7 linked regions of the Homo sapiens genome follow. The protein of the gene in region 2 purifies or fractionates together with the protein of the main gene of each other region. This does not show direct contact. Each region holds a gene or a part of one and is shown on either strand. Other genes may lie near its edges. The genes, in order: CMTM6, S1PR4, TBC1D9B, CAV2, GNPTAB, TM9SF3 and PREB.

The links.
Region 1: the proteins of S1PR4 (region 2) and CMTM6 purify together in Homo sapiens (affinity purification with mass spectrometry; one large-scale study listed by BioGRID and IntAct). This does not show direct contact.
Region 3: the proteins of S1PR4 (region 2) and TBC1D9B purify together in Homo sapiens (affinity purification with mass spectrometry; one large-scale study listed by BioGRID and IntAct). This does not show direct contact.
Region 4: the proteins of S1PR4 (region 2) and CAV2 purify together in Homo sapiens (affinity purification with mass spectrometry; one large-scale study listed by BioGRID and IntAct). This does not show direct contact.
Region 5: the proteins of S1PR4 (region 2) and GNPTAB purify together in Homo sapiens (affinity purification with mass spectrometry; one large-scale study listed by BioGRID and IntAct). This does not show direct contact.
Region 6: the proteins of S1PR4 (region 2) and TM9SF3 purify together in Homo sapiens (affinity purification with mass spectrometry; one large-scale study listed by BioGRID and IntAct). This does not show direct contact.
Region 7: the proteins of S1PR4 (region 2) and PREB purify together in Homo sapiens (affinity purification with mass spectrometry; one large-scale study listed by BioGRID and IntAct). This does not show direct contact.

Annotation. Positions count from the first base shown.
Region 1 is NC_000003.12:32,499,447-32,504,153, reverse strand, and holds the start of CMTM6 (CKLF-like MARVEL transmembrane domain-containing protein 6), read left to right. Parts: upstream 1-1,301; 5' UTR 1,302-1,408; coding exon 1,409-1,546; intron 1,547-4,707. UniProt on the Homo sapiens protein: Master regulator of recycling and plasma membrane expression of PD-L1/CD274, an immune inhibitory ligand critical for immune tolerance to self and antitumor immunity.
Region 2 is NC_000019.10:3,177,158-3,181,233, reverse strand, and holds S1PR4 (sphingosine 1-phosphate receptor 4 precursor), read right to left. Parts: upstream 2,466-4,076; 5' UTR 2,442-2,465; coding exon 1,287-2,441; 3' UTR 902-1,286; downstream 1-901. UniProt on the Homo sapiens protein: Receptor for the lysosphingolipid sphingosine 1-phosphate (S1P). S1P is a bioactive lysophospholipid that elicits diverse physiological effect on most types of cells and tissues. May be involved in cell migration processes that are specific for lymphocytes.
Region 3 is NC_000005.10:179,862,386-179,866,661, reverse strand, and holds part of TBC1D9B (TBC1 domain family member 9B), read left to right. Parts: intron 1-773; coding exon 774-824; intron 825-1,301; coding exon 1,302-1,408; intron 1,409-2,533; coding exon 2,534-3,214; 3' UTR 3,215-4,276. UniProt on the Homo sapiens protein: May act as a GTPase-activating protein for Rab family protein(s).
Region 4 is NC_000007.14:116,505,448-116,509,375, reverse strand, and holds the end of CAV2 (caveolin-2), read right to left. Parts: intron 3,406-3,928; coding exon 3,255-3,405; coding exon of another isoform or gene 3,217-3,254; 3' UTR 835-3,216; downstream 1-834. UniProt on the Homo sapiens protein: May act as a scaffolding protein within caveolar membranes. Interacts directly with G-protein alpha subunits and can functionally regulate their activity.
Region 5 is NC_000012.12:101,744,999-101,748,755, forward strand, and holds the end of GNPTAB (N-acetylglucosamine-1-phosphotransferase subunits alpha/beta precursor), read right to left. Parts: intron 2,244-3,757; coding exon 2,166-2,243; 3' UTR 501-2,165; downstream 1-500. UniProt on the Homo sapiens protein: Catalyzes the formation of mannose 6-phosphate (M6P) markers on high mannose type oligosaccharides in the Golgi apparatus.
Region 6 is NC_000010.11:96,580,186-96,584,461, reverse strand, and holds part of TM9SF3 (transmembrane 9 superfamily member 3 precursor), read left to right. Parts: intron 1-4,276.
Region 7 is NC_000002.12:27,131,543-27,136,556, forward strand, and holds the start of PREB (guanine nucleotide-exchange factor SEC12), read right to left. Parts: upstream 3,095-5,014; 5' UTR 2,880-3,094; coding exon 2,745-2,879; intron 2,180-2,744; coding exon 1,990-2,179; intron 1,796-1,989; coding exon 1,575-1,795; intron 1,382-1,574; coding exon 1,301-1,381; intron 1,186-1,300; coding exon 1,061-1,185; intron 862-1,060; coding exon 688-861; exon of another isoform or gene 662-687; intron 541-661; coding exon 468-540; intron 290-467; coding exon 130-289; intron 1-129.

The sequences.
Region 1 (4,707 bases), on a different chromosome or scaffold from region 2:
TGTCTCTATTCATTTGAATGGGAGCTTTTGTTTGTTACTGGAAGAAGAAAGGGAGGTTTGGGGCCACGGAGAAGATGTAGCAGCTGATGGCAGCAGAAACCCCTTCTCTCTTCCATGGGTTTTGAGACTCCAATGGAGAGATGAGTTAGAAGCTGACGTTTTCTGGGTTAGCGTTTAGCAGCAAGGTTTCGAGTCAGACTGCTTAGGCCTGCATTCCAGCTGCTCCTGGCTGTTTGACCTTGGATATGATTTCAGCCTCTTGGCCTCAGTTTTCTCATTTGAAAATGAATGTAACCGACTTTATACTGTCGAACCTACTTTATATTGTTGTGAACATCCTGTAACTCAATCAACTTCAGTTGCTAAAATATAATTACATTCCTTGACAAGTTCACACAAAATTAACATATGTGACTGTAGCAGTTGGTGACCAAGAAAGAGAAAAAGGAAATGATTTTGAAAAGTGAGCCTAAATGGAATTTCGGGAGACGCGGGAGGGAGCGATTCTGAAAGTCCTTACAGACAACTCATTGTACTTCAAATGAAATACGAATTCTTCCCTTGGTCTGCAAGGCCTCCACATTATCTGGCCTTTGCCTACATCTCCAACATCTCCTTTCCTCCCGTACTTATTCCTAGCGACACAGGCCTTTGGGCTTCAGATTGAGTCAAACTCATTTGGTCCTCGGGACATTTGCACTTTCGTGAAAGGCTCTCCCCAGAACTTTACAAGCCTGGCTTCTCACACTTTGAGTCTCATTCAATTCAAAGATCATGGTCCTCAGAGAGGCCTTTCCTGACCACTCAGTTTAGTAGTGGCCATTTAAGTAGAGCACCCAATTCTCCATCCTTTTTTCCTTCTCCTTCCTCTTCTCCTCCTCCTCCATCTTCTTTTTTTTTTTAATAAATTTATCAAGCCACCAGAAATGCTGAATCCATTATTTTCGTATCATATTTTCACGTCACTTATCACTATCTGAAATTGCTATCCATCTGTTTTCTTGTTTATTGTCTGTCTCTGTTACTAGGGATCCTGTGATTTTGGGTAGTACTTGGCTGTCACCCAAGTACCTAGAACGGGGTTCACTGCACACCGAAAGTACGCAAAAATACTAAGTGAATGAATGTCAGGAGGATGAAAGATGGAGGGAGGTGAGAAATCCATCAAAGGCTCACAGAAAGAACTCAATTCTTGGATGAAAGTCGGAAGAATCCCAACAGCTAACAAGCAAATTTGCTGAGAGGGGGCGGGGCGGGCCAAGGGCGGGGGCGGGAAGGGGCGGAGTCAGGCGGAAGCCGGGGAGAAGGCCCAGGAAGTGACGGCCGCCTCCCGGCTACCGGGGACTTCTGGAGTCCGAGAAGTCAACGGCGCGGTTGCTGCGGCCGCCGCGCTCCCCGGCCCGAGGCGATGGAGAACGGAGCGGTGTACAGCCCCACTACGGAGGAGGACCCGGGCCCCGCCAGAGGCCCCCGGAGCGGCCTCGCTGCCTACTTTTTCATGGGCCGGCTCCCATTGCTCCGGCGCGTTCTCAAGGGCTTGCAGCTGGTGAGTCCGCGGTCAGGGAGGGCGAGCCCGGGCTGGGGAGCGGGGTCTGGCCCGGGCTTGGGAGGCCGCCGAGCTCCTTCGTTTCAGCTTGGTTGTTCAGTAAAAGGAGGTTTCCACACCTCTAGTTCCTTCCCTCTCAGCCTGGGGAAGGGGGCGTTACCCTCCGCCCTTCCGCCGGGCGGCCCCTCAGTCCCAAGGCTCTCCCCATCGGGATCCCACGAACTGGGGCCACCCAGCCTGTTAGGCGGGCTCAGGAAATGCGTCGGAGACCCAAGTCAGCCACTTCAACATCTTTCACTCATCCTCTATGGCGACTTTCCTCTCTTCTCTCTGCTGCTACCCTGCATTATCGCCCACAGTGCCTGTATTTAGACTGTGAAGCGCTGTTTATCTTTCTCTGGCTCTTGCGGTTTTCCTGCTGCGAGCCCATGGGGGCAGTTTAACTTGCTGGACAAAGTCCTGCGATACCACGCGTGGCATTGAGATGTGTGTGTATGTGTGTCCGGTAAATTGTCTTCTAAAAGTTTTATATTGACTGGAAAAGAATTATTTCAAAATTGAGCAATATGGGTTCTAAGTGGAAAGTCAAAAGGACAGCTTTTTGTAAGTATGTGCGGATAGCTGAACTAGGACATGGTATGCATCTTTCCATTTTATTGAGTTTATTTTAAGCAGTTGAAGTACCATAAACCTGTTCGTGAAAACATCAAAGCATCTTTGAGATTTAAATTATTCACTTTACAGTCGTGTTGGCTCCTATGTACTGTTCCAACCACTGATGGTTGAACCAGTTTAGGAAAAATAGAAACAGTTTAGGTTCTATTTCTGCAATAGAACCAGTTTAGGAAAAATCCGAATGCTTATGATGTTTATGAGTTTTGTCTTACTTTGTTTTGTTTTTTAACCATTCTAAGTAAAAATTAGCTCATTGGTTTCCTTGGAAAGAACTTAAATTCTTACAACTCAAATGACCCGAAGTTAAATTCTTAGAACTCTAGTGACCTACTTTTATTGAATAGAAAAACAGAAGTCGGAAAATCGGCACTGCTGTTTAGCGATCAAAATGATCACATCTGCTGATGACTGGGAAATCATTTGAAAGCAAGTGATAATGTGGCCTATGGAACCCAGTAGGATCTGGCCTTATCTTTCTCCCAGTCTCCCTCTAGGTGGTTCCACACTGGCCACCTTTAATTTATTACGAGGCATCAGGGGCTCTTTCCTGCCACTGTTCCTTTGCATAAGCTGTTCCTTCTACCTTCTTCCTTCTTCCTTCTCTTCTCTTGTCAGCTGTCACATGATGATTTTTAGGTATTAGCTGTATTTCTCTGCAGTAAAGCTAAAATTTTCTACGTGAATAGTAGAACTCTTTAGAACAGAAAAGAATATTCATCTGAAGCTTTTTTTTTTTTTTTTTTTGAGACCGAGTCTTGCTCTATCGCCAAGGCTGGGGGCAGTGGCGCAATCTCGGCTCACTGAAACCTCCGCCTCCCGGGTTCAGGCAATTCTCGTGCCGAGTAGTTGGGACTACAGGCACGCACCTCCATGCCCGGCTGATTTTTTTTTTTTTTTTTGGTAGAGACGGGGTTTCGCCGTGTTGACCAGCCTGGTCTCAAACTCCTGACTTCAGGTGATTTTCGCCCTCCGGGCCTCCCAAAGTGCTGGGATTACAGGCGTAAGCCACTGCGCCCAGCCCATCTGAAGCATTCTTGCTGCTCGAAAAAAATCATCTGTATTGGTTTGCTGCCCACAAAATCTCCTGTTTTCAGTTGCCTTTATTATTTTCTTTCTAATAAAAAGTGGCAAAGCTAAAGTAAATTTTCTGATTACCTTCTTATAGTTTAGTAAACTGTAGTTTCGTATCTTTGGAATAGAACATAACCAGTTTCCTTCCTTATTGCTGTTATAGAAGAAAACATGGAACACAACCAGAAATTTTTGTGGTAAATGTTATACTTGGACACAGAGAAGATGAATTTGCCTTAAAAGATCGTTAGACTATTATTAGTTCTCCATCATTCATAAGAAGAAATGGAGAAAAAATAAAAACTAATATCTCTTTATGAAATCCATTTATTTGTTTATGGGGAAATTGTCATGTTACAGGAATGCTTTCTTTAATGTGGAGATTTAAAAGTACTTTTTCATTACTGCCTTTCACTTTGATGGTTGTCTTTTTGTTCCTTTGTTTGTTTTGATAATGTCTTATCTCTTCACAGTAACAGTATATTACAGGAATTATCCAGCAAGTCCCAAGAAGGTTACATATGAAGTCGGTAAAAGTTGTCTTCCAGCCTGGGGCTATAGGCAAGGTCTTTGCCTTAACTCAAATTCTTCCTTTAGATAGATTGGTTGTTTTACTTTAAATGTTTAATTTTTTTAAAAAACTAAACAGAATTGCGAGCTCCAGTAAGGAAACAACTGTAATGGAGAAACCCGTAATCAGAAGAGGAGGTGTTTTAACAAGGGACCTGCAAACCCTGTGAAATTTTATTCAAAATATTGTACACTTATATGTTTGAGTATATTATTCTGGACCCATAAATCTTAACAGAATCTCAAAGATCCTACAAGAGAAAAGCCTGCTCTAAAACTTAAAAACCAGACATTGTGTATATACTTAGGAAATTCTTACATTAGAGTCTTCGGAGGTTGAATTGAATTACCTCTGAGGTTCTTTGCACTCTTAAGGTTTTTTTTTTTTTTTCAAACCTCTGAGGCTCCATGGGGTTTGCTATTACAGAACTGAATTGAATATTGAAGGGATAGAGAGTGGAGCCTGTACACAGAGGAGATTAGAGATAAAAGAACGTAACTTCTCTATCTCTTGAAGTTAACATAGCTGTGTCTGCCATTTAGATATGACCTAAGTTTTGTTAAAACCCTAAGCATCCCCCAACTACCATCCACCCTTCCAGAGCTTAAGAAGAAATACTCAGTTGAGAATTTAGTGTAAGGAGTTACTGGAGTCCTAACTTTATGCAGTTTTTCAGTTTATACTATCCTTAGATTTGTCCACATGTTCATGTTTTATTTTGTGAATGTTTTTGAGGGAGTTTTTGTTTTAAGGGGAGAATTGACGTTTGGTAACCTAATTGCTTGCTGATACGCTGGTGCAGTGACCTAAATATGTGGAATTTTCTGTGCAACAAGCTCCACAT
Region 2 (4,076 bases):
TTCAATAGCCGTGTGTGCCTCACAGCTGCTGTGTTGGTGGGTAAATGGCCCCCACACACCGCATTCCCCATCGTACAGTGGAGAAATAATGACTTAAAGCAGAACTTTCTGAGCCCAGGCGGCGGGTGGTGTGGATTCTGACTCTGCTCAGACACTGGACTGGACGGGACTGGCTTGGTCCTGGGAGAAGGTGGGCGAGAGCTGTCTATGAGCTGCAGGTGCTGGAGGCTTCCGGATTTACATCTGCACTGAAACTGTGGCCACCCGCCCCATGGGGCTACCGAAATATAAACAGATTCAAATTAAACACAACCTACACTTCGAAATTCAGTTATCTGCTTGCACCGTAGCCCCGTGGGGCTGGCGTCTCCCATACTGAATGGTGTGGAGCTGAAACGTCTCCACTGGAGTTTCACGGGGCAGGCAGTTGTCAGCCCCTGTGGCTGGCGGGGAGCGTGTACAATCAACCCTGTGCTTCGGCTTCAGTGATTAAACTGTTTTACCCACCGGGAAAGCCGAGGCCGTTCATGCTGAAGGGGATGTGAGGGAAGATTCCCCCAGCCCAGGAAGCCAAGGTGGTGCCTCTGCCAGCCCCAGAGAGTGGGTCCCCAAAAGATGCAGAGGCCAGAGATGGGGCATGGGCCCTGCCATTTCTAAAGGGGAAGTGAACAAGAAGAGGCGGCATTAACTGTCATTGTCACCCCCACTTCCCGCAACGCCCAGAGGTTGTCCACACACACACACACACACACACACACACACACACACTCCACCCTCACAGGGCACTGGCCCGTGGCCCTCTCTAGCAAAGACACACCCGGCTGCCCCTAGATCCACAGCCCCCCTGAGCCACGGCCCCCACGCATGCACGCACCAGGGAATAAGAGGCCGCAACATCACGTACCATGATCGAACTTCAATGTTGCCAGGGCATGCATCCCACAGTCCACCCCTTGCAGCCTGGGAGCCCTACTGAGGCCCAGAGAGGGGCCGGGACTTCCCCAGAATCACACAGAAGCGGGGTTGTGGGGAACCCACTCGCCCCCACACCAGGGTGCTCTCTGCTCCTACGGGGAGGTGGGGTGGTTGCCTCCTTGTCCAGGGTGACCATGGGAAGCCCATTTGGCGTCAGAAGCCCCGAGAGGCCACCGGGAAGACCATGGGGGCCTGTCCCGTTCCCTGCTCCCCATACAGGCGAGGCTGCGTGCACACAGCTTCCTGTACCCCAGGAGGGCCTGCCTGGCACGCACCCGGTGGCTGCACCATCCACACGCAAGACTGCAACTTCAGATGCTCCGCACGCTGGAGATGCTGGACAGGGGCTCCCGCATCCGAAAGCTGAGCGAGCGGGAGCCGCGAAAGCTGTCCCTTGGCCTCAGAGAGCTGTCGGTGGTGGAAGCTCCGGAGTGAGCCTCGACGGCCCGGGCCAGGCAGTCCCCGGGCCCTCGCATGCCCAGCCGGAGACACCCGCAGCAGAGGAAGCTGAGCACGGCTCTGCACACCTCCCTGCTGCGGAAGGAGTAGATGATGGGGTTGACCGCCGAGTTGAGGACGGCCAGGGCCAGGATCCAGTCCATGCCCCGCAGGTACTCCTGGGCCCAGAGGTTGGAGCCAAAGACGTCGGCCAGCAGCAGCCCGAAGAGTGGGCCCCAGCACACCAGGAAGGCCAGCAGGATCATCAGCACCGTCTTCAGCAGGCGGCGGGCCTTGCGGCGGGCCGCTGGGCGTGGGGCCTTCTGCCCGCTGGCCTGCACCAGGCGGAAGATGGCCCCATAGAGGCCCATGATGGTGGCCAGGACGCCGGCGAAGATCACCAGGCAGAAGAGGATGTAGCGCTTGGAGTAGAGGGGCAGAAGGCTGGAGCAGCGGTCAAAGGCGCACAGGCAGTTCCAGCCCAGCAAAGGCAGCATCCCCAGCAGCGCGGCCAGCAGCCAGCAGAGGCCGATGAAGCCGTAGACGCGGCTGGTCTTGGTGGCCCCGCTCTCGGCCACCGGCCGCACCATGGTGGCAAAGCGCTCCCCTGCAGTGAAGAGCAGGCTGAAGGTGGAGGCGGCCAGGGCGGTGAAGAGCAGGCCCTCCCGTAGGAACCACTGGGCGGGCGCCAGACGGAAGGTGCGGGCCCCCGACAGCAGCACGTTGGCCAGGTAGGCCGCGCCCGTGAGCAGGTCACTCAGCGTGATGTTCACCAGGCAATAGTAGACCCAGCGTCGCGACCGCATGTGGCTGGTGATGGCCGCCAGCACCAGCAAGTTCTCCAGCACCACCAGGCAGCTGGCGGCCACCGACAGCCCCCGCAGGGCCCCCAGGCCGCCATCCTCCGGCCCCCCGCGCCCGGCCAGCCGGCCCGAGTGGTTGTAGTGCAGAACAATGAGCCGGCTGTGCCCGCCGGCCGCCAGCTGTTGGCAGGACTCGGGGGCCACCGGGGTCCCCGTGGCGTTCATGGCCTCCCCCGGGGGCTGACTGAGGCCCGACGCAGGGTGGAGCCACCCGCCTTGCTGGTCTTGGTTTCCTGTTATTTGAAATTTCCTGTTATGTTCAAGGTGCCCTCCAGGGTGGAGGTAAGGCCGAGGACAGGGAGGGGCACCCCAACGGTCGGCCCCCACCCGGGCTCCTGGAGCCAACGCGCTGGGGCTGCCCTGGCTGTGAGGACCCCCACCCCTGCCCTGGCTGCCTTCTTCCTGTCCTCGAAAGCCGGAGACCCGCAGGGAGCCCCGGAGCCGTCAGTCACGGAGGGGAAATGAGTCCCCACTCGGGATGGGCCACCCCTTTCCAGCCGGACGACTCCTCCCCACCAGCCCTGATCACCCCCGAAGCACCCGTCGGCTCCACTGAGGTCTCCCCACATGCTCCACCGGCGCTCAGCACACAGCAGGTGCCTAATAAATGTCAAGTGCCTGCATGCCCTTGAGCACTGACTCATCCGACTTGATCCCCGAAACAGGGCCTGATGCGTTACAGAAGAGGAAACTGAGGCCCAGAGAGCCCGGTGCGTTGCAGAAGGGGAAACTGAGGCCCAGAGAGCCCGATGCGTTGCAGAAGGGGAAACTGAGGCCCAGAGAGCCCGATGCGTTGCAGAAGGGGAAACTGAGGCCCAGAGAGCCCGAGGCGTTGCAGAAGGGGAAACTGAGGCCCAGAGAGCCCGAGGCGTTGCAGAAGGGGAAACTGAGGCCCAGAGAGCCCGATGCGTTGCAGAAGGGGAAACTGAGGCCCAGAGAGCCCGATGCGTTGCAGAAGGGGAAACTGAGGCCCAGAGAGCCCGATGCGTTGCAGAAGGGGAAACTGAGGCCCAGAGAGCCCGAGGCGTTGCAGAAGGGGAAACTGAGGCCCAGAGAGCCCGAGGCGTTGCAGAAGGGGAAACTGAGGCCCAGAGAGCCCGATGCGTTGCAGAAGGGGAAACTGAGGCCCAGAGAGCCCGAGGCGTTGCAGAAGGGGAAACTGAGGCCCAGAGAGCCCGATGCGTTGCAGAAGGGGAAACTGAGGCCCAGAGAGCCCGATGCGTTGCAGAAGGGGAAACTGAGGCCCAGAGAGCCCGATGCGTTGCAGAAGGGGAAACTGAGGCCCAGAGAGCCTGATGCGTTACAGAAGGGAAAACTGAGGCCCACAAAGGCGGCCTGAGGCCAACTTTCTGCCCATGGGAGGACACACAGGTCCAGGGAGAGAGACCCCCAGGGACAAGCTGGTAGGGTCTCGGGGCCAGGCGCCCATTTTGGGATTCATGGTTGCCTCTCCTGCCCCTGAGCTCACCCTGCTGGGAGCAGAGCTGCTGGCCCCCTGGGGCAGCCCCCCACTGGGATTGAGGTGCATAGGAAAAGTAGGGACTTGCTCACCCCATCCCCATGGCCCTGCTGACAACGGCTCACGGTGACTCAGCCTGAGGTGAGGTGGCTGTGGGTCTAAGTGGGAGACACACCCTGCTCTGGCGTCTGAGGAGGGAGGCAGGCTCTGCCCTGGCGTCTGAGGGGGAAGCTTGGACCTGCCTGGGGTCTGAGGGGGGAGGGTTGGCCTTGCCCTAGGTTCTGAGAGGGGAGGCATGACCTTACCCTGGGGTCTGAGCGGAGAGGCTCAGCCTTGTCCTG
Region 3 (4,276 bases), on a different chromosome or scaffold from region 2:
TCTGGGAGCGGCATGTTGGTGCAGAGCCCTGGCCTCAGACCGCATGTGGCCCCCAGGAAGCAGGGCCTCCATTCCAGGGTGAGTTGCCTGAGCCCAGAGAGGTGTGCCCTTCACTGCCACCAGACAGCCAGCGAGAGCAGCTCAGAACTGGGGTGCTGCCGACCTGCCTGAGGTGCCCCCACCAGCCACACTGCCTTTGGGGAACAGCTCCAGGAGAGCTGGTCGGCTGCTTCTCTCCCCAGGTGCATGTTCCCACGCAGGGAGTATAGTGCGCGCCAGTTCCGGCAAATGTCCTCCCCGAAACGCTGCACCAAGCACAGGAGCTGTGCACAGACCACCCCTCAGTAACAGGCACAGCAGGCGCGGGTGGAAGGGGTCATTAGGGTTCCCCTGAGTTCTAGCAGGAACATTCCCCAGAGTTCTAGCAGGAACTATAGAATTCGTTAGTCCTCAGACTGGTCTATAGCCCTCATCATTGTTCACGTCAAAACCAGCATGTTGAGACTTGTATTCATTTGAAAAAAGGAATTGAGGGTTTGGCGGCCTTTATTTTAACCTGACCAAGTGAGGGAATGCTCAGGCCCTTTTGCTCTGGTGCCATAGGGCGGGGCTGGGCGGGCCAGGCAGGAGGTGTGGCATGGGAGACCTGCTCCCCAGGGCCTGGCCTGGGGCTGGCTGTACAGAAACACAGACTACATCTCAAGGACCCCAGGAGCTTGCAGTCCCAACAGCAGAATGTTATTCATGTTCTTTTTATTTTTGCGTTTGTCCAGAAGCACTACCACAGGAAGAGCAAGAAGGAAGTGGAAGTGAGGAGAGAGGAGGTACAGGCCATTCTCTGCCGCTGTTCTTAGAGACCCCAGCGTTGAGGCACCCTTGCTTGCTGGTCTTTTCCCCAGTCACTGCCAGGGAGCCCCCTACCCCGGGAGATGGCGGATGCGTCCCCCGATCAGGGAGCAGGCCTCGGGATGCACAGGAGGCTCCACGCTCTCCACCAGCCCCACGGGCACCCAGCCAGCCCTCTCTTGCCAGCTTCTCTCCAGCTGCCCTGTGACTCCCCATCTGAGAGAAGACATTGTGGATCATTGTCATCAGCTTAGGTCCAACCACTGCAGCAATTTAGGGAAAACCTGTGGCTGTTCTGGGTTTTTTTCCCATGACCACCTTCCCAAACGCCAGGGTGTTTTATGATAGGGCCCTGGTAACTCCATGCCAGAAAACACCCAACTCTTCCTCTCCCTGCTGTCAGCCCGCAGCCGTCTCACATGACAAAGATTAATCTCTTTCCTCCTAACCTGCAGAGGAGAAGGGGACCAGCTCTCCGGACTATCGGCACTACCTTCGAATGTGGGCCAAGGAGAAAGAGGCTCAGAAGGAGACGATTAAGGATCTTCCCAAGATGAACCAGGTAGGCTCCACTGGAGCCCACAGTAGACATTTCTGGAGAGTTCTGACCAAGACTGGGCCCTAACATCACCGCACCTGCACTGCAGCATCTCCTGGTGGGTGGGAAGGCTCCTCCCTGCCTCTAGAGCCCGTTAGTCCTGGTTGCCAGTCAGCGATGATTCCAGAAAGACAAGAGGCCAGTTGCTCCAGGGCCTTGTATAGGGGCATGTTTCCAGATTGAGTGAGTGTCTGTGAACCAGGAGCCAGAGGCTTGTAGGCTACCTTTGACAAGATATGCGTTCCACACCCTGCACCCTCCCAGCCCTGCCCAGGGCTCTGCACACGCAGGCTCACATGCATCCTCCACACCCGCTCTTCATTCACTGGTCTCGCAGATCAGAAGCATGGTGTCTTGCCAAGGGTCTCAAAGCCAGAAAATGGGAGACCCCAGCTCCAAACTGCAAGCGTTGAGCCAAAGGCAAGTCTGGAGCACCAGCCTGACCATGGCCCTCGGGCCAGACCCACGGTCTAGCTGTGCCCAGTAGGGGACCCTGCAATCTGACCACTCCCCCAGCAGGCCTGGAGGGTGGGCACCACGTGCGATGAGGATTCTTCCCATTCTTGGGCCAGGAGGCCTAGACGTGTGGCTTCAGGACCTAGCACCCACCCTCCCCAGCACCCCCCTCCCCAGGATCCCCCTCCCCAGCTGACCCAGGCTGTATTTTCCTCACCATCACCTTCTAAAGAGCTTCATTCAAGGGCTGAGTTGAGGCTGCTTCTGATTAAAACCAAAGGTGATTCTAAAACACAACGAAGTCCTTGTACTGACTGGATTTAGAGTCGTGGTAGAAATCCATCTCCCTGTGCCAACAGAACGGACCTAGAAACAGGGAGGCCCCAGGTCAGACCAGCATGCTCTGAGTGCCAAGAGAAAGGCAGCTGGAGGGGAAAGCCTTTTGAAGAGCTGTGTGGCCTCTCTGAGCCTGTGTCCTGATCTGTGAGATGGGACTGATGAGGCTCATGGAGATGATTAGCAAGACGGCAGCCAACATCCTTAGGCTGGTGCTTGTCATCAGTTTGGCTAATATGGACCCCGTCTGACTGGTCTTTTACCATCTCCCTGTTCTTCTGTTTTTCTCCCTAAAAGGAGCAGTTCATTGAGCTGTGCAAGACGCTTTACAACATGTTCAGTGAAGACCCCATGGAGCAGGACCTGTACCACGCCATCGCCACCGTGGCCAGCCTCCTGCTCCGCATCGGAGAGGTGGGGAAGAAGTTCTCAGCCCGCACAGGCAGGAAGCCCAGGGACTGTGCCACTGAGGAGGACGAGCCACCAGCACCCGAACTGCATCAGGACGCAGCCAGGGAGCTTCAGCCCCCAGCTGCAGGAGACCCCCAAGCCAAAGCAGGCGGAGACACACACCTCGGAAAAGCCCCACAGGAGAGCCAGGTGGTGGTGGAGGGGGGCAGCGGCGAGGGACAGGGCTCACCCTCCCAGCTGCTGTCTGACGATGAAACCAAAGACGACATGTCCATGTCCTCCTACTCGGTGGTCAGCACGGGCTCCCTGCAATGTGAAGACCTTGCAGACGACACGGTGCTGGTGGGCGGGGAGGCCTGCAGCCCCACAGCGCGCATCGGCGGCACCGTCGACACCGACTGGTGCATCTCCTTTGAGCAGATCCTGGCCTCCATCCTGACGGAGTCCGTGCTGGTGAACTTCTTTGAGAAGAGAGTGGACATTGGACTCAAGATCAAGGACCAAAAGAAAGTGGAGAGACAGTTCAGCACCGCCAGTGACCATGAGCAGCCTGGAGTTTCCGGCTGATGCCTGCAGCTGTGAGGCCTGGCCCAAGGTGTCATCAGTGGGGCTGGCCTCATCTCCTCCTGCCTTTCCTCCCTTATCAGTTTCTCTTTAAAGGTGTGCCCCTCCTGCTCTCCCAGGAGCAGTGAGTTGTGAGTGGAAAGAAGGCTGGTGCAGACCCAGCTGCCTTAGACAGATTCCCTGGGCCTGCATCTCCTGGCGCCGGCTGCTTCTGGGCCCAGGAAGAGGCTGTGGCTCCCACCTTCCTTACACCTGGTGGGAGCCCGCCTCGCACCAGCTGCACCTGCCTAGCATTACAGGCTCTCAGATCTGCCCTTGCTTGCCTCATACCTCTGTGCTCCACACTGCGGCCAGGCCAGCTGAGTCCCTCCATCCGTGGATGCTTTCCTGCAGCTATGTGGTATGGGGGTCATTCCTGCCTCTTGGCACCAGGTTGGGGGGCATGTGCTTGTTGGGCACCAAAGTGATGGAACCCTCAGGTGCTCTCCGGGAGCCTGAACCTCCTGACTGAGGAACATGGGCAGAACATGTTTATTGCACAGAGTGGGCGCTGCGCACAGGCGTGGCTGTACACGTGCTCTCAGCTCATCATCCTTTCCAGTAACTTTAAAAAAACATCCCTCAGGTCCTGATATATTTCCTTGGATTCATTTCACTTGGCTAGAAATTACACTGTGCTCAATGCCTTAATAAATCCCTGAAAGAAATAAAAACCACTGTGTGCAATGCCTTGCTGTGGCCCCCAACCACTGCTTAGGCCTCCCAACTTCTCCCCAGGCCAAGTATGGGGCCCTGGCTGTGTTCTGGAAGTTCAAGACACTTAGTCCTCCACAGTGGGTGGAAGAGTGCAAGGTCTGCCAGGTCAGATGGAGACGCAGAACCTGCTGGTGCAAGCTGGGCAGGTCCTGACCAACCTGCATCAGGGGATGCCCTGAGCTCCACAGGTCTTCATGGGCAGGGGTTGTGGGTCCTGGTGAAGGAAGTGCATCCTCAGGCCTGGGCTGTAGCAAGCTGTCTGCCCTTGGGTTCAAGAACCAGACTGTGGAGCCAAAGGTGACCGCAGGG
Region 4 (3,928 bases), on a different chromosome or scaffold from region 2:
GACTGGACAGCTAGGTTGGTTTTCATATACATAGCCAAGTTTTCATCCTGCTGAAGTCACAGAAAACAATGAGATAGGAAGCTCCTGAGAGACCATTTAGTTCAATTCTTTCATTAACGATAAGAAAACTGAGAACCCAAGATTAAACCCTTTGCATGAAGGGATACACCTCAATAACGGCAATGCTGAGACTGGAATCCAGTTGCCTGACTTCTAGGGCAGGGCTTTTTTCACTACACTCCAACAACTTTCCAAGAGAGGCATCAAAATAAATTAATGGGATGTGGATGACTATCAAAAAGATGAATTTTTAAAAGTTCCTGAAAACTATAAAGAACATTTTAAAAAGCCAAGCACCTGCTTTATTATTATAGGTTGGTCGTTTTTCCAGATGAACTGACAAGAAAATGTATGCCAACATCAGCAACTACTCTTCACATACTCACTTTCCAAAAATAATTTTGGACTCTAGTCTAGCTTCATGGTACAGGTATCCAAGTGCCTGTGATTTATATTGTTACTTTCTTATTTTAAAAATTGGAAACAAATTTCAGTTTATTTAGGATTAGCAAGAAGAGACTATAAAAAAGAAGAAGTATGGTGGGTGTGTGAACAGGCTATTTTATACTATTCATCAAATGATAGAACATTTATATGGAACCTCTTTAAGTGCTGGAAAACAAAGAATTCAACTACTAATGTAATAATTTTTAAAAATACATTCCCAAATAAGCAATAACTAATGTATTTATTATCTATTTTGAGTTTTTAATAAGGTAAAAATAAGTATGAAAGATTCCATATTTACTGTAATAAAAGCAATACACACATTTGTAGGCTTTTAGAAAATTTATTATGAATTCCGAGAAGTCTGCTCATCATATACCTCCCCCAGCCCCAAATAAAACAAACAACATGTTTGTACATAAAGCCTGGATTTACTTGGTACAAAATTTGAGTCTTTGAAAAAAATAGTTAATGGAAAATCTCAATAAAAATTCATTTTGAAAGTAACCAGTACTGTTCAGAAATAAGGAAGTCATGTTACTTGAGAAGTCAAACAGTTTTATTACAGAACTATGTGTATATATTTTGGGTTTAAAACTTGCCAATAGCTGTTTGAAAGGATAGCTCATAATTTATTCAAATAGATATTTTATTAATCAAATGTTTTTGGTTTATCAACATAACCAAATGTATAAAAAATGTTTTTAAATACAAGACATAACTATAAAGTCATGAGGCTGATTGACCTTTTAAACTAACATAATAAAATCTATATGGTCAAAATGAGTGGTGATGCTTTAAGGTAATGATTATGCGTCCCATCTAAGGATGCTGCAATGGCCTAGGGCAGTTTTGAAATGTCTCTTTGCAACTACCTTCAAAAGGATATGAGCTTCATAATTTAATCATTCATTTGATTTGGTCCCCAATATTATTCCAGTTCAATCATCATTTATATTCACCAGTCCTGGCGATTTTGAAAAATCTTATTAATCTTATTTGTCACTTATTAGCGTATTCAAAGGAATGTCAATTGAGGTTCTGATGGTAATTCTGAAATTTAAGCATTTACACACTTTTAAGATGTGTAAATTTTAGTAACTACTCACATTATAGACTTGTTTTTGGTATATGTCTATCATTTTGAAATAATGAGATTTTTCTTTTTTCTTTTTTTCTTTTTTTCTTTTTTTTTTTGAGACAGACTCTTGCTCTGTTGCCAGGCGGGAGTGCAGTGGCATGATTTTGGCTCACTGCAACCTCTGCCTCCCAGGTTCAAGCAATTCTCCTGCCTCAGCCTCCCAGGTAGCTGGGACTACAGGTGCATGCCACCATGCCCAACTAATTTTTTTGTATTTTTAGTAGAGACGGGGTATCACCATGTTGGCCAGGATGGTCTTGATCTCCTGACCTCATGATCCACCCGCCTTGGCCTCCCAAAGTGCTGGGATTACAGGGGTGAGCCACCATGCCCGGCCCAGAAATAATGAGATTTTTCAAAGCAACAGTGATTCATCACACTGAAATAGGACTCTACAGTTCAAAATGACAAGAATAACTTTATCCTGTGTTACATACCAATATTAGAGAAATCTTAAAAGTTTGTAGCTGTTAGTTTTTAGTTTATGCATGTAGTTCAGTAGCCCAAGTTGACAACTCCCCTGTCTCTCTACATGAATCACTGTAGTTGAAATTGTACTAAAGTATCAGAAGTAACATTTACTGTAAAATGTTAAATAGCACCAATATTACTTGAAAGTAAAGTGAGACATTAATAGGAATGCTGACACAGATTTAATTTCTAACTACTAGAGAGAAAGCATCTCCTAGACAAAATACTATTTAGATATGAATTATTTTAAGATCACAGCCAGAAAAATGTCATAAAACATTTTAGATTTTGCTTGGAAAAGTTAGAAAAGAAAGCTTTGTGTATCGCTCTTTTATCTTTTATTTCCAAAGAAGATGTACAAATGCTTACATAATCAGAACAGTGCAATCTTACCAATGAAGTTTACCTTGTGGGAGCTACATTTACTTATTTCATATATTAGTTCAACAACATAAATATAATAAAAATGCTTTTAAGCAATCTGATTAGAGCAACATTTATATTAACTACAAAATATACAGTAAAATGAAACATCTTGTTAAATAGGCCTGTAGGAAAACAATATTTTAAAGGAATACATTTTCATGAATCTACTTTCATATTTATTTGTTTTATTGTATCTTATAGTTACTATAATCGTTGTGTGCTTTTGTTACTGCAATTTCCAGGATCATTGTATATTCTCAGTATGCCAGTGACTATATATGTAAAGGTAATTTAAAAAGTATTACTCCCAGAGTAAAAACAGACAAACAAATAAGAAATCTCATTTTTAATGGGAAGTTGTGCATAAAACTATTGTAGTATTTTTATAGAAATGTCCCTTAATCATTATAAGTTCATCATTATAAAATGTATACTATTGTACTAAAGCAAAACTGTCTGCCTTTAAATCTAAGTGGTGTCAACTTACTGTATAATTCTGGTTACAAAGTTAGATATGAAATCTTTGGCTATTAATTAGAAAAGCATTATTTGAAAAGACCTGTCAATAAACATTTCTAAATGTGGTTGCTCATCTTAATAGTTTTCTTAATTAGAACAGCTAGGAAATGAACAGAACAGTGGTGCTTTTATGTTATAATAACAAAGAAGTATTACAGTATCCCAATCTCCAGACCTGGGGTCCAAGTATTCAATCCTGGCTCAGTTGCAGGCTGACAGAAGAGAAGCATCGTCCTACGCTCGTACACAATGGAGCAATGATAACATCTGTCACACTCTTCCATATTGTCTGCACTGAAGGCAGAACCATTAGGCAGGTCTTTACAAAAGGCATTAAAATCCTGGAAGGAAGGAAGAGAGATGTGTGAGGATTGTTGCTGTTACCAAATAAGGTCTGTCTTGTACATGTATGAAAAGATAAAATACTGACCCATTTACTTAAATTTGGTTGAGAGTTTGAAACAAATAAATGAACAATGATCACTGATAATGATTTGGGTTTTTTGTCCCCCTGACTCTCATTTTGAAATGTAGTCCCCAGTGTTGGAGGTGGGGCCGAGTGGGGATAATTGGATCACAGCGGGTAGATCCCTCATGAATGTCTTAGTGCCTGCCACCCTCTTGGTAACGTGAGTTCTCACTCAGTTAGTTTGCTTGAGATCTGATTAACTAAAAGAGTCTGGGACCTCCACATTCTCTCTCTTGCTCCCTTTCTTGCCATGTGACGTGCCTGCTCCTCCTTCTCCTTCCACTATAAGTGGAAGCTTCCTGAGGTCCTTGCCTAAAGTAGATGCTGGCACTGTGCTTCCTGTACAGCCCGCAGAACTGTGAGCAAAAATAAACCTCTTTTCTTTATAAATAACC
Region 5 (3,757 bases), on a different chromosome or scaffold from region 2:
AAAAAAACTAAAACACAGAGTGACCTTTTCTATAGGATTTGAACAAATGGTTCTGACCATCTGACTGCTCATCAACTTCTGAGGTTCCTCTGTTCTAATGATTCTACTGAATCACAGAATCATTAGAATGAGTCTATGAATAGCCTATGATTGTATTATCCATCCCATTATCAAGCTCCTAATTAGGTATGGACTATATTCATCTAACCACAGAAATCGTCATTACAGACAAATGTTCATTTCTCTAACTTTTCTAGAATAAATCTCAGCTTTTATAATGATACCCAGATATCCTAAATTTTACCATATGATAAATTCCATTTAGAAACTATTTTCCCCCCATAAAGCAACATTCTTCTGTATAATACTAATCTTTCCTTACTTTCCACTTAATTTTAGTAATGTTCAGCACAGAACCTGATACACAGTAAAGGCACTCAAGTGACTGCTGAATCTGAGTAACAGTAAACTCAATCCTCAAAGATTTAAAAATCAAAGTGTCAGACAAAAATTTAACTTTTTATGAGATTTCAGTTTTTGAAATACACAACTCTTACAGCACAAACACAGTATTTACATTTCAAGTTCTTTGTACAAAAGATGTATGCCATTTTGGAAGAATATTGTTGAGATCATGATCTAAAATACCTGTCAGAGTTACTCATGGAATCTGCTCTTCACAAATCCATTGTATTATGACATAAAATATGGCTAGACGCCAAGGTTTAACCATACATAAAAATACTAATTCTCGGCTGGGTGCACTGGCTTATGCCTGTAATCTCAGCACTTTGGGAGGCAGAGGCAGGTGGATCACCTGAGGTCAGGAGTTCAAGATAAGCCTGACCAATATGGTGGAACCCCCGTCTCTACTAAAAATACAAAAATTAGCAGGGTGTGGTGGCATGCACCTGTAGTCCCAGCTACTCAGAAGGCTGAGACAGAACTGCTTGAACCCGGGAGGCGGAGGTTGCAGTGAGCTGAGATTGCGCCACTGCACTCCAGCCTGGGCAACAGAGAGAGACTCTGTCTCAAAAACAACAACAACAACAACAACAAAAACTAATTCTCAGTGATTGGCAAATGATGGCCTGAGGGTCACATCTGGCTGGTGGGCAGTTTTTGTACAGCTGCAAGCTAAACATGGTTTTTACATTTTTAGAGGGTTGTTTGAAAAAAAACAAACTAAACAACAGCAAGAAGAATGTATGACAAAGACACAGGTGGCCTGCAATAATTTACTAACCAGCCTTTTACAAAGAAAGTTTGCTGGCCTCTGTTCTATCAAAAACCAACTGAGAGAGATAGCTACTGGAATATACCAATGAGTATTAAACAAGACACCACTGTAATGTGCCAGTGCCATCAGCACTACTCATTTCTAAAATGAGGCACTTCTGTTTGAATATGTACATTTCCAAAACATAATTACATCTGGTAAGTAGTACTAACTCTAGCCCTTTGAAATTAGACCTGCACGTGAAATCATAGCATTCTTAGGGGCTGAAGTCAATAATTACAAAGCATTTCAGATGTCAATCATTGAGCTCTTCAGTAGTTAGTGGTTTAAGACCATTTACAGTCTTAAATATTAATAAAACTCATAATTTAGGTATTGTCAATAAGAGGTGATATTGCTGCATTATTTAAATAACATCTATAAAAATAGGTTTAGACATCCCAATTCGTTATACTCAGAAGCAAGAATAACTAGTTAACTTAGTAACTACTTAAAAATGGGAAATGAAAAAAAAAAAGTGCAAAACTTTAGCAAAAGGCTTTGGAATGCAAAGACTGGAGCCTCTTAGCAATCACTCCCAGCTGGCATAGGCTTCTCCTAATAAAGTTAGTCTGCAATGATTGCTGTGGGAAATTAACAGCTGTCTCTTGTCAGTGAGCCTTTTTATAAAAAGGATGACAGGTCCATGAGCAAATTCTTTAAAAGTAAAATCAGTTCAGAGCTGCTCAACACACAAGTTTTCAGTGGGTTGGTTAAATAATTCCTGGTCAGTGGGCTATATTCATGCCACAAAACAGCATGGTACTGGATATTTTCCTTCTTCGGGCCAAACTGCTAAGCATCACATCACAAAGACATCTCTGTGAAGCTGAGTTTTAAAATGCTCAGTAAATGCTGAGGTAGATGGTTTTCAAATGAAGATCTTCTATACTCTGATTCGATTGGGACTAGCTTCTTTGTGTATCCTCCTTCTGGGAAATATCTTCCGCTTAAGTGCAATTAACTAAATGATGAAAGACAGAAAATACATTTTAATTCTCACGTTGATGAAAGAATATAAGTGCATCAAACTTTCTAAGAGCCATATGACCTTAATCATTTCCACAATCTTATACATTAAAAAGACAACAAACAAATCTCCATCATTCCTCTTCCAAAACAAAAACAAATATTAGTTTTGTTTAGCTTTGTAGGGACAGTATGCCTAGATATGTGCCCACAAAGAGACCCAAGAGGATTAAAATTATTTCGGCCCATGCTTCATTTTTCTAAGACCTACAACTACAGATTTTTACACAGCTATTACCAAAGCATATTTATTTTCAAGATGTCCATTTGTCAAGTCTTTCTATTGAAGGAAACTGGCTCTATTTAGCCATAAGACACTGTCTCTGGGTTGATATGATGGCTTATTCCTTCATCTGTAGGAGGAGGCAGGGCTTTGCCCAAACATAAGACACCACGGTTTGAATGATGAGCTGGAATTTGGGAGGGGAGGAAGAGGCAGCATTGGCTGCTTTGTTTGTGAAGGTGGCAGGTATGGCAGGAGGAAGGAGTTTGACTCCAGTAGAGAGCAGAGTGTTGGGATTTAACCTGCCCTTCCCTTCCCTCTTCCTGCCTCTCTAGTTCCCTATTCTCTACTGGTATAGATAGACTGGTATAGATAGAGGAAAGACTGCCTCTCTAGTTCCCTATTCTCTACTGGTATAGATAGAGGAAAGACTGACACTCCTCTTCCTTTCCATTAATGGCTGCTCCTTTGAGTCAGGGCTCCTTTCCTTCCCCATCCTAGGTCAGCACAGCAGACTCAAAGGTTTCTCACTGGACCCTGTTCTAAAAGCAGGTACAGCCTTTCTGAGATTTTTCATAAGACTTTTACCTGCCAGGAACAATGGTAACAGACATCAAGAACAAGATGTACAATCCCTGGAAAGCAGATGAAGGTTAAGTTGCTGTCCTGTTCACCTGCCCAGTCTCTGTTTCCTGAATTTCCTTCCATTTACAGCAAGAAGCCCATTCATTTATCCTGAAGCTCTCAGTACTTAGGTGCTTGTCCTTCTTGGTATAAGTCAACTTGGTGTACGTTTCATTTGAGTGACAGCTAGAAAAGCTCCACTCAATAGTCACCTTGATTGGAGGCAGAGGCCAAGTCACTTGCCACACCCAAGTCAGGTTGGTAAAGATGCCCATTCCCCTCCTTCAATCCTTTTTCTTCAGAGTATTTGATATGTGAATAGCCTAATGAGGACTCTCTTATCCCTTTCTCTTTACCTCACAAATCTCCCTCCGACTTCTGGACACTCACCTCAAGGAGGCTGCGTGTGTACATGCATGCAGAGGAAAGCCCAGGTGTAGAGGGGCTGACAAGGAGAGGAGGAAGGAGGAGAGAGGAGGGAGAACTCCTAGCGATTGAAAGAAAGATAAATGGGAGCTACTGGTGTGAGTGGGACAACACAACGGAACCGTGGGATGTCTGAAGACACTGTGCTCACTCAAGGAAGCGTGAAAGAGAGGAAG
Region 6 (4,276 bases), on a different chromosome or scaffold from region 2:
TAAGCATAAAATTCAAATGTCATTTATATTATTTTTTCACTGTTAGCCAAAATCTTTTGCTTTTTCTAAATTTCTTGAAAATATTTCTCAAAAACTAGGCATTCCTATTCCTCTTAGCCAGATAGTAGTACCGAAAAGGCTAATGTCAAGTGAGTTTTATTTATTTTTTTCTGTCAAAGAAGCAGAAGTAGCTAGTAAAGAGAGAATAATACTAAAGGAAGAGGAGACATTGGTGTGGGGAAGTTGCTGAGTAGGTGTTTAGTAAATACATGTAGAATTGAATTATCAAACAATAACTTTTAGAAGCTGAAGCTGGCCTTTTAGGTTAATTGCCTGTGAAGATTGTTTCCAGATAATACCTAGTATGTCTTTTGTAGTAAAATGGGCTATGCACTGTTTTTTTTTGTTTGTTTTGTTTTGTTTTTTTGAGGCATAGTTTTGCTCTTGTCACCCAGGCTGGAGTACAGTGGCACAATGTCCACTCACTGCAATCTCTGCCTCCTGGGTTCAAGCAATTCTCCTGCCTCAGCCTCCCTAGTAGCTGTGATTACAGGTGCTTGCCACCATGCCTGGCTAATTTGTGTATTTTTAGTAGAGACGAGGTTTCACCATGTTGGCCAGGCTGGTCTTGAACTCCTGACCTCAGGTGATCTGCCTGCCTCGGCCTCCCAAAGTGCTGGGATTACAGGTGTGAGCCACCATGCCCTGCTGGCTATGCACTGTTCTAAGTATTTTACACTTATTAACTCATCTATTAATAACCTACGAGGTGAGTAATATGCCCATTTTGTAGATGAGGAAAGTGAATCTAGAGAGGTGAGGTCACCTGCAGATAACACACATCTGGTAGGGGTAGAGGTGGGATTTGAACTTAGGCATTCTGAGTTGATAGTCTTCTGCACTGTGAGCCGCCATATGCTCTATTCCCCTTTATCCTAAAAATAAGACAGTAAAGCACTAGGTATTGAGTGGTTCTCTATATTGATTTTTAAGTGCTTAAATGCTTAAATGCTCGAATGAGTGTGGCTCCATGATGAGTTGTTTCTGAGATCTTTGGGTTAGCATTAAGGAGCAATAGTGTTGACTTCATGGGCACGTGCCCTGAATAGTCACAAAAGACTGTGTGAGAGCTTGTTTTCATGCTATCCTGTAACATCTTGAAGTTTTAAATTTTTTAACAAGGGGCTCTGTATTTTTCTGTACTGGGTCGCACAAATTATATAGCTTGTCCTAAGAAGGGACAATACCTTATGCCCATTCCCCAAAGCCCCTGATATCTCTTACTGTACCTACTGAATTAGGATTCAGGTGGCCATCTGACCCATATGGTATTTTTTTTTCTTTTTCTTTCTTTCTTTCTTTTTTTTCTTTTTTTTTTTTTGAGACTATGTTTCACTCTTGTTGCCCAGGCTGGAGTGCAATGGCGTGATCTCGGCTCACTGCAACTTCCGCCTCCCGGGTTCAAACGATTCTCCTGTCTCAGCCTCCTGAGTAGCTGGGATTACAGGCATGTGCTACCGTGCCTGACTAATTTTGTATTTTTTTAGTTGAGACAGGGTTTCTCCATGTTGGTCAGCTGGTCTTGAACTCCTGATATCAGGTGATCCGCCTGCCTCGGCCTCCCAAAGTGCTGGGATTATAGGTGTGAGCCACTGCGCCTGACCCTATGGTATATATGTATATATTTTATGTGCTTATTTGTCCAAAGTTATTTTAATATTCTCTGAAGAGTGTTGAAAAGGAAATGTGCTATTGACTGTATGTACATATCTAGAATATGTAAAAATGTGTTCCTTTTAATTTTTAAAAGTTGAATCATATGCATTACAGACATGTTGTTTGAAATGAAAATTAACACTTTTGTGGAAGACAGGCTTTTAATAACTGATTGAAGGGACATAGGCTTCTTTATAGTCAGTGAAAGGTATGTTTATGCTTATTTGGTTTTCTAAAACTCAAAGCACTTGGAAGCATCTAGAGTTAGATTACTATGTCTCCTAAGATTCCGAAGGACTCCATTAAAAACAATTTCAGATTGAGAATCATAGAATTTTAGAACTAGAAAGACTCAATAATTTAATCCAAAACTCTTCATTTTCCTAATGGCCTGTACAGGTTCAGAGACTTGCTCAAGGCCACAGAAAGAATCAGAGCTTCCTGATCGCCAGTCTTGTCTTTTCTACCTGTCTTTTACATGTAATTCCATAGTTATAATATGTAAAGATGTTAGCAGCAAAAACCCAGTACTTAGGGGCACAGGAATCTTAGAGCATTTTATAGTTTGCACTGTAGCCTTGAATTTTTATGGGTTCTGTTTCCTTAACAAGATCACAAAGTCAGATTTTTTTTTTTTTGGTCTGTTATATACGCAAGCACTGTGCTTGGCACAAATAGTACTTGATGAGTGCTTGTTGAATGACTTGAATAATTAGGGAGCTACTAGTGACAAGGATATGCAGTGTGGAAGCACAATGAACAAACTGAGGCCGTTATTCCTTTAAGATGCATAGTCTTCTGTTTTGATTTGGGGGTCCTACCTAGGCTAAAATTCCCTATTTCTCTGTGGCCCAGTGTACTTCTGGTAATCTTGAGACTTCTAATGTTGGACAGACTGGATGCCTACTAGAATCGTTTACTCAGCCTCTGCCTCATAAATAATTTGTATTATATCACGGAGTGATTTCAGAAATGTTTTGTTTGATTTACTTTGGCAAATGGAAACCTTTTGTCTTTGTCTCTGTTGGGAGTATAGGAACTCTTAAAACTTACTGAAAACTTATAAAGAGTATAAGCTGTTTACTATAAGTGAATTTGTGAGTTATCTAATGTAGATTGTTAAATGCCGTAATTCGTTGTCCTATTTTCAGCTCTACTCAATGATAGACTGAAAGTTTATTTAGGTACAAAGCTATTTTTGAGAGAGAGTAGTTATCTCAAGAGACTATTCAAAATTACATTTCTAATTTATTTGTATTAGAATTCTGATGTGTGTTTTAATAATTTAAAGGTTTTGAAATTATGATTTCTGGAACATTATTTTGAAGTAAACACATATATTTTTCCCCCTTTGTATGAAAATGAAGGATAGCATTTGGGTGCTTGTTCTGAACCCTCAGTCCTTTGCTCATCTATGTAAATTGTGATTTCTTATTCAGATTTCACATGACCACGTCAGCATATTATCTTCTAAAGCGTTTCTCCTGATAATAATTAATTCATTACCTCTGTCAAGGAGGAAAACTTTGGTACCCCCCCAACACATAAACAGTATTTAAATAAGAGGGGCCCAACATTGGTGACTTCTTGAGAATAAAGGTCATTCCTTTTGAGATTAGAGTGCAAATAGCTTCTTAGAAGGTTTTTTTTCTTTCAGGCAGATTAAAGGCTCACATAGAAAAGTTATTCAGTGTTCAGGACTGTCTTTAGTTGCTTTGTACACCTGGCACTGTTTTCATATTTCCTTGATTTAGTTTTTTGCTCTTTAATGAATGAAGCTGACTAGGGATTAGCAAAAATACTAACCTTTTAAACTTGATGCTGATTGATTTGGACAAATTACTTAACATCTCTGTTCTTTAGTTTTGTTTTTGTTTTTAGTCTGTAAAATGGGGAAGTAATAGGACCTATTTTATAGAATTTTGAGATGATTATTTAAGTGTTCATATAAAGACCTTAGAACTATACCTAGCTCATAGTATGTATTTATTGTTAGCTACTGATGTTATTATTACAAAAATGGTGAGATCATGTCATGTTAGGGTTTGGTGAGTTAAGGCTTTACTTGAGGATTTGAAAAAGGAGGATTTGAGCATTTCGGAAGGATTATTAGAGTTTGGCTAAGTGGAGAAAAGGAGGGCATTCTAAATTTGGTGGAATGACGAAAGAAGATGAAGTGGGGCCAGGCGCAGTGGCTCACGCCTGTAATCCCAGCACTTTGGGAGGCCGAGGCGGGTGGATCACGAGGTCAGGAGATCGAGACCGTCCTGGCTAACATGGTGAAACCCCGTCTCTACTAAAAAATACAAAAAATTAGCCGGGTGTGGTGGTGGGCGCCTGTAGTCCTAGTTACTCAGGAGGCTGAGGCGGGAGAATGGCGTGAACCTGGGAGGCGGAGCTTTCAGTGAGCCGAGATTGCACCACTGCACTGCAGCCTGGGCGACAGAGCAAGACTCCGTCTCACACACACACACACACACAAAGATGAAGCAGAAAAGGGGAGGAAGACAATATCATAAACCGTTTTGGCCAGCGTGGATGACGTAAGTGTAGCAGTGAG
Region 7 (5,014 bases), on a different chromosome or scaffold from region 2:
AAGGGCTTCCCAGCCTGAAAACCAGAACCCTTCAAAGGAGGAGTGGCACAAAGAGCCCAGCCTCCGGGGGGCACGTTTCTGGTCATTAAACGTGGGGTGGTGCCTGCCTGCCCTGCCCCAATGACTCACGCCGTGAGGGCAACAGATGCAGCTGGCAACGACTGTCCACAGCCACAGAGAACAGGGCAGTTTCATGGGACCCAAGGAGCTCTGGACCACGACCCTTCTCAGGTAGAAAGGCCACATCCGTCACCACAATGCCATGGGCCTCCCTCACGTAGTAGAGGCACTGTGGGCAGAAGGAATACCAGTGAGGAAAGGCCTAGCTGGGAACTCTCTTTCTGGAAAGCATGTTCCCCACCCCCAGGATTTCCCTCGATAGGATGGGCCAGACTCCTTCCTGCAAACTCAGGGTAGAGACAGGCCTACAGTCCACCCACAGGGCCATGCCAACCTCCACCCATTACCTGGAGAGAGAAAGCTATGTAGATGGCAACAGAGCCAGTGACTGTGCCCAGGCCTAGGAAGGTGCCGGATTCACTGCAACAAACAATAAAGAGCTCATTGTCCTGGAGGCTTGTGCAGCAACCCTCATACCCCAATACCGGTCCGTAGGGACCCAGGCAGGACTCCTTTCCAAGCTCCCTCAGGGACCCCCTACCTAGCCAAGGCAGCAATGTCTCACACCTGACATCGAGGCAGGAGACGACTTCATGGCCACAGGACTTGGTCCGAAGGGGCAAGAAGTTGGAGCCATCCCAGGCTGTGAGGTAGCAGGGAGGGGGCTGGCGCAGGCGCTTGTGGGGAATTTGCACTGTGAAGAGTCGCAGGCCAGCAGGCTGGTCTGGAACCTGCCCAAACCTGGGGGCCGGATGAGGGGCTATTCAGCTCCTAGGGCCTGCCCAACCCTCCTCAGAGGTTTGTGCACCACCTGCACCCTGGTCAGACCTGGGGTAACACTCAACAAGTTCCTCCCCAGCTCTCCCATCCCCAGTCTTTTCCCTCTCCCCCACCACAGCTGGGCTATGCCTCTTTCAGCCACCACCCAAAGTCTTCACACCTGCAGGCCTGGTAGCGGTAAGGTGTGCTGGAAAAGGTGGGTCCATTTTCTTGCCAGTGCAGCTGTGTCACCAGCTGATCCTTCTGCCACACAGAGGCCTTAAGGTCCCGGCCCACGGTTACCAACTAGTTAGGAATAAAGATTCCAAGGATGGACAGTTAGGGGATCCACTTACTGGGCAAGCAGCATAAGCACCTCCTCTCTCCTTTCTCCATCCTCCTCCCACCCCCAGCCCCTCACCTTGCCATCAGGCCCTAAAGCCAGGTCTTCAATCTCCCCTTCGTGGGCTTTGAACTCCAGAACCTTCTCCAGGCTGGGCACCTGTAGCCAAACAACCACCATGGTTAACTCAGGTGTCCAGCAAGTACACTGTGACTGATGCCCACGCCACCCCTTCTAATGGCCCCTCAATGCAAGCTTCATTCACAAGTTTCCCAGATGCCACGTTCAACTTCTCACAATTTTGATCCTGTTGCTACTGACATTCACCCTCCCTAACCCTGCAAACCCACACCTTCCAGACACGGACGTAGCCATCTGTTCCTCCAGTGGCAAGCAGGGTATTATCGTGGTTGAAGCACACAACTTTCTGCAGTGGATCGGAGCTAAAGTCTGTCTGCACCGCCTGCAAATTCTCTACCCTGAGTTCTAGCCCCTCGTGCTGGGTTTCCGCTCCACATTTCTTCTCTGCTGGGGCTGCTCCCTTCCTTTGTCGAGGCCCCTGCTCCTTGGAACCTGTAACACAAACACTTGGCCAGGTTCCAGGCTTCTACAGTAAGGAGTACTGGCCCCTCTCTCCATGGCAGGTGCCCATACAACTTCTAGCTTGCTACCAAAACCCTACTTCCAGACCCACTTCTTTAGAGACACCAAGAGTGACCTTACTCGTTCAACCCTTTCCCCAAGGGGGTAGAGAGGGAGCTCCTCACCGGCCTTCTCTGCCTTGTTGCCCTGCTGTTGATGTGCCTGGAAGCGCAGGAGCTGACAGTGGGCATCCTGCCCTGCAGCAAGGATGTCACCAGCCAGTGCCAAGTTCATGGTGGCCCGTGTCTCTGTGTCATGGGAGTGCAGCAAGGAGGCACTCAAGCGCCCATTAATCAGCTCTAGCTGCAGAAAGTGCTGTGGGAGGGGGAACCCGGATGAGCAAGTTCAGGGGTGCCCAGAGAGCACGTTTAGGGAAGAGTCTGATGTCTTACCCCTTTGCTTTCTGCACGTTCTAGTTCACAAGGGTTTCTCGAGTCTTTTTTCTCTCATTTGGGCCTCACAAATCTACACAGTGAGCAGGACTGGGATTATTACCTCTATTTTACAGAACAGGGTGAAGCTCAGGAGAGGGAAGGAACTTAGCCTAAACCCAAATGCACCACTCTCGCCGCTGCTAGAGGGCAGGCAAGACCTCCCGGAAAAGGCCAGTATAAGACCCCTGGAGCTGCTCTGAGGCGGAGCTGAAGCGTTCCTGGCGACTCTGCAGCTGTGTGCAGTTTTCACTTTACCTTAAAAGCCTCTCCTCCGCCCGCTGAGTTCTCGACTGAAATTCGCCCCTGGGCGTCAGGCAAGCGGGTCTTCCCAACAGAAGTGGGCAGGGCCCGAAGCTGGAGTGTGGCCCGCCCCGCGACCCCCCGGCCACCCTGGAATCGCCGCCAGCCCGCAGCAAGACCCAGCCCCAGTGGCCCTGCGCTCTCACCACGCCATTCTTTATGCCTGTCTTGGCGGCGCCTCCTCCGCCCGCAGCGATGAGCAGCCCAGTGCTGGGGTCGACCTGAAGCGCGTACAACGGGAACGGAGCCCGGTACAGCTCTGGCGCCCGGCGCCGGCCCATCCCGCCCGGCGCGCGTTCACTGCCCGCACCGCGGCACCCAGGACATGCCGCGCCGGGCCTTCGACTACTGCCCCGGCGGCTGGTGAACTCGGCCCCGTCGCCGCCGGGAGCACTCCCTACCCCTCTCACACCGGGGAGTTGCCAAAACCCTGACCATCAGCAGGAAGCCGAGCCTCAGCTCGGCTCCGTCCAAGTCGGTCTCGCAGACGCGCACTGCGCATGCGCACCTGTCTCGCGGCTCCCTCCGCGCAGGCGCAGGAGCGCCGACACGCGTCAGCACTAGCCGGCCGCGGGGCCGCGTTTCCCGGGGCGGGGCTTCGGTTCTCCACCCCTGGCGCGGAGGCAGAGTCGCCCAGCACCGACTTCGCCATTTTTGTGCGGGGCGCGGGGCGCGGGCGGAGGAGGTGGAGCCAATGGAGGTTGATGAAGGTCAACCTTTAATAAAGAAATCCGACTCGCGCCTGTAATCCCAGCACTTTGTGAGTCCTAGGCGGGCGGATCAGGAGTTCGAGACCAGCCTGACCAACATGGAGAAACCCCGTCTCTACCAAAAATACAAAGGGCGTGGTGGCGTGCGCCTGTAATCCCAGCTACTCGGGAGCCTGAGGCAGGAGAATCACTTGAACCTGGGAAGTAGAGGTTGCAGTGAGCCGAGATCGCGCCATTGCCATTGCTCTTCAGCCTGGGCAACAAGCAACAAGAGTGAAACTCCGTCTCAAAAAAAAAAAAATCCTCTGCCAGGCACGGTGGTTCATGCCTGTAATCCTCCTGTAATCCCAACACTTTCGGAAAGTCCGAGAGAGGAGGATGGCTTGAGCCCAGGCTTTCGAGACAGCCTGGGCAACATGGGGATCCGTCCCTACGAAATATTTAAAAATTAGCCAAACATCGTGGCACCTGTGGGCCCAGGTGCCCAGGAGGCTCAGGCGGGAGGATCACTTGAGACTGGGAGGTCGAGGCTGCGCTGGACCACCAGTGATGTCACCACTGCACTCCAGCCCCTGGGCAACAGAGCTAGACCCTGTCTCTCACACACATAAAATCCTCAAATAAGGACTGTTCCCATCTGAGGAGTGATATGCCAACTCCTAGGAGCACAGGCCTTTGCATCTTACCTCAGAGAGGAAGTGATTTGCCCGAGGGCACACACCAGAAACCACCGGAGTCTCTTGCTTCTTAACGGAGGCAGCATGAACTTAAAAATAAACCTGACTTCAAATGCTGAATCCATTGCTTCCTCGTATGAGGACACGTCTGTCATCCTTAACGCCTATCGCCCACTTTTGGCAGGGGTGGTGTCTGCCATTCCCTTTCTCAAGGCTTCACACTCCTGGGCTGGTGGCTTGGTGGGTGGCCAGCTGCTTTGCTGGCCTCAGAGGGGGCAGTTTGGCTCCCGGGCAGGTATCTTCTGCGCCTGACACTCCATTCTCCCTCGGGTTTCTGATCTGATGAGGACCTTTGTGCACTCCTGAGAGCGAGCACAAGGGATGTCCTTCCCTGCAAAGAGACGCCCTCTCCTGCATTCTCATTAACCTAAGGTGCACCCAGAGGAATAGCGCAGTGGCTTCATCTTTGGGGATGCCAATATCTGTCCCACAGAGTTGAATTAGATGTGTGAAGGGCCTGGCCAAGCTCTCTGCATATCTCAAGTCCCCAGGCCTTGTGGGTCCCTTGTCCTCCTTGGATACATGGCACCTGCTCTTTCTGGCCTCTCCGTTTCCTTTGACACCACCCTCCAGGGTCTTTTTTATTTTTTGAGACGGAGTCTCGCTCTGTTGCCCAGTCTGGAGTGCAGTGGCCTGATCTCAGCTCACTGCACCCTCCACCTCCCAGGTTGAAGTGATTCTCCTGCCTCAGCCTCCTGAGTAGCTGGAACTACAGGCACCCGCCACCACACCCAGCTAATTTTTGTATTTTTAGTAGAGATGGAGTTTCACCATGTTGGCCAGGCTGGTCTCGTAACTCCTGACCTTAAATGATATGCCCACCTTGGCCTCCCAAAGTGCTGGGATTATAGGCATGAGCAACCACACCATGCCCTCTTTTTTTTTTTTTTTTTTTTGAGATAGGGTCTCTGTCACCCAGGCTGGAGTGCAATGGCATGATATAGCTCATTGCAACCTTGAACTCCTGGA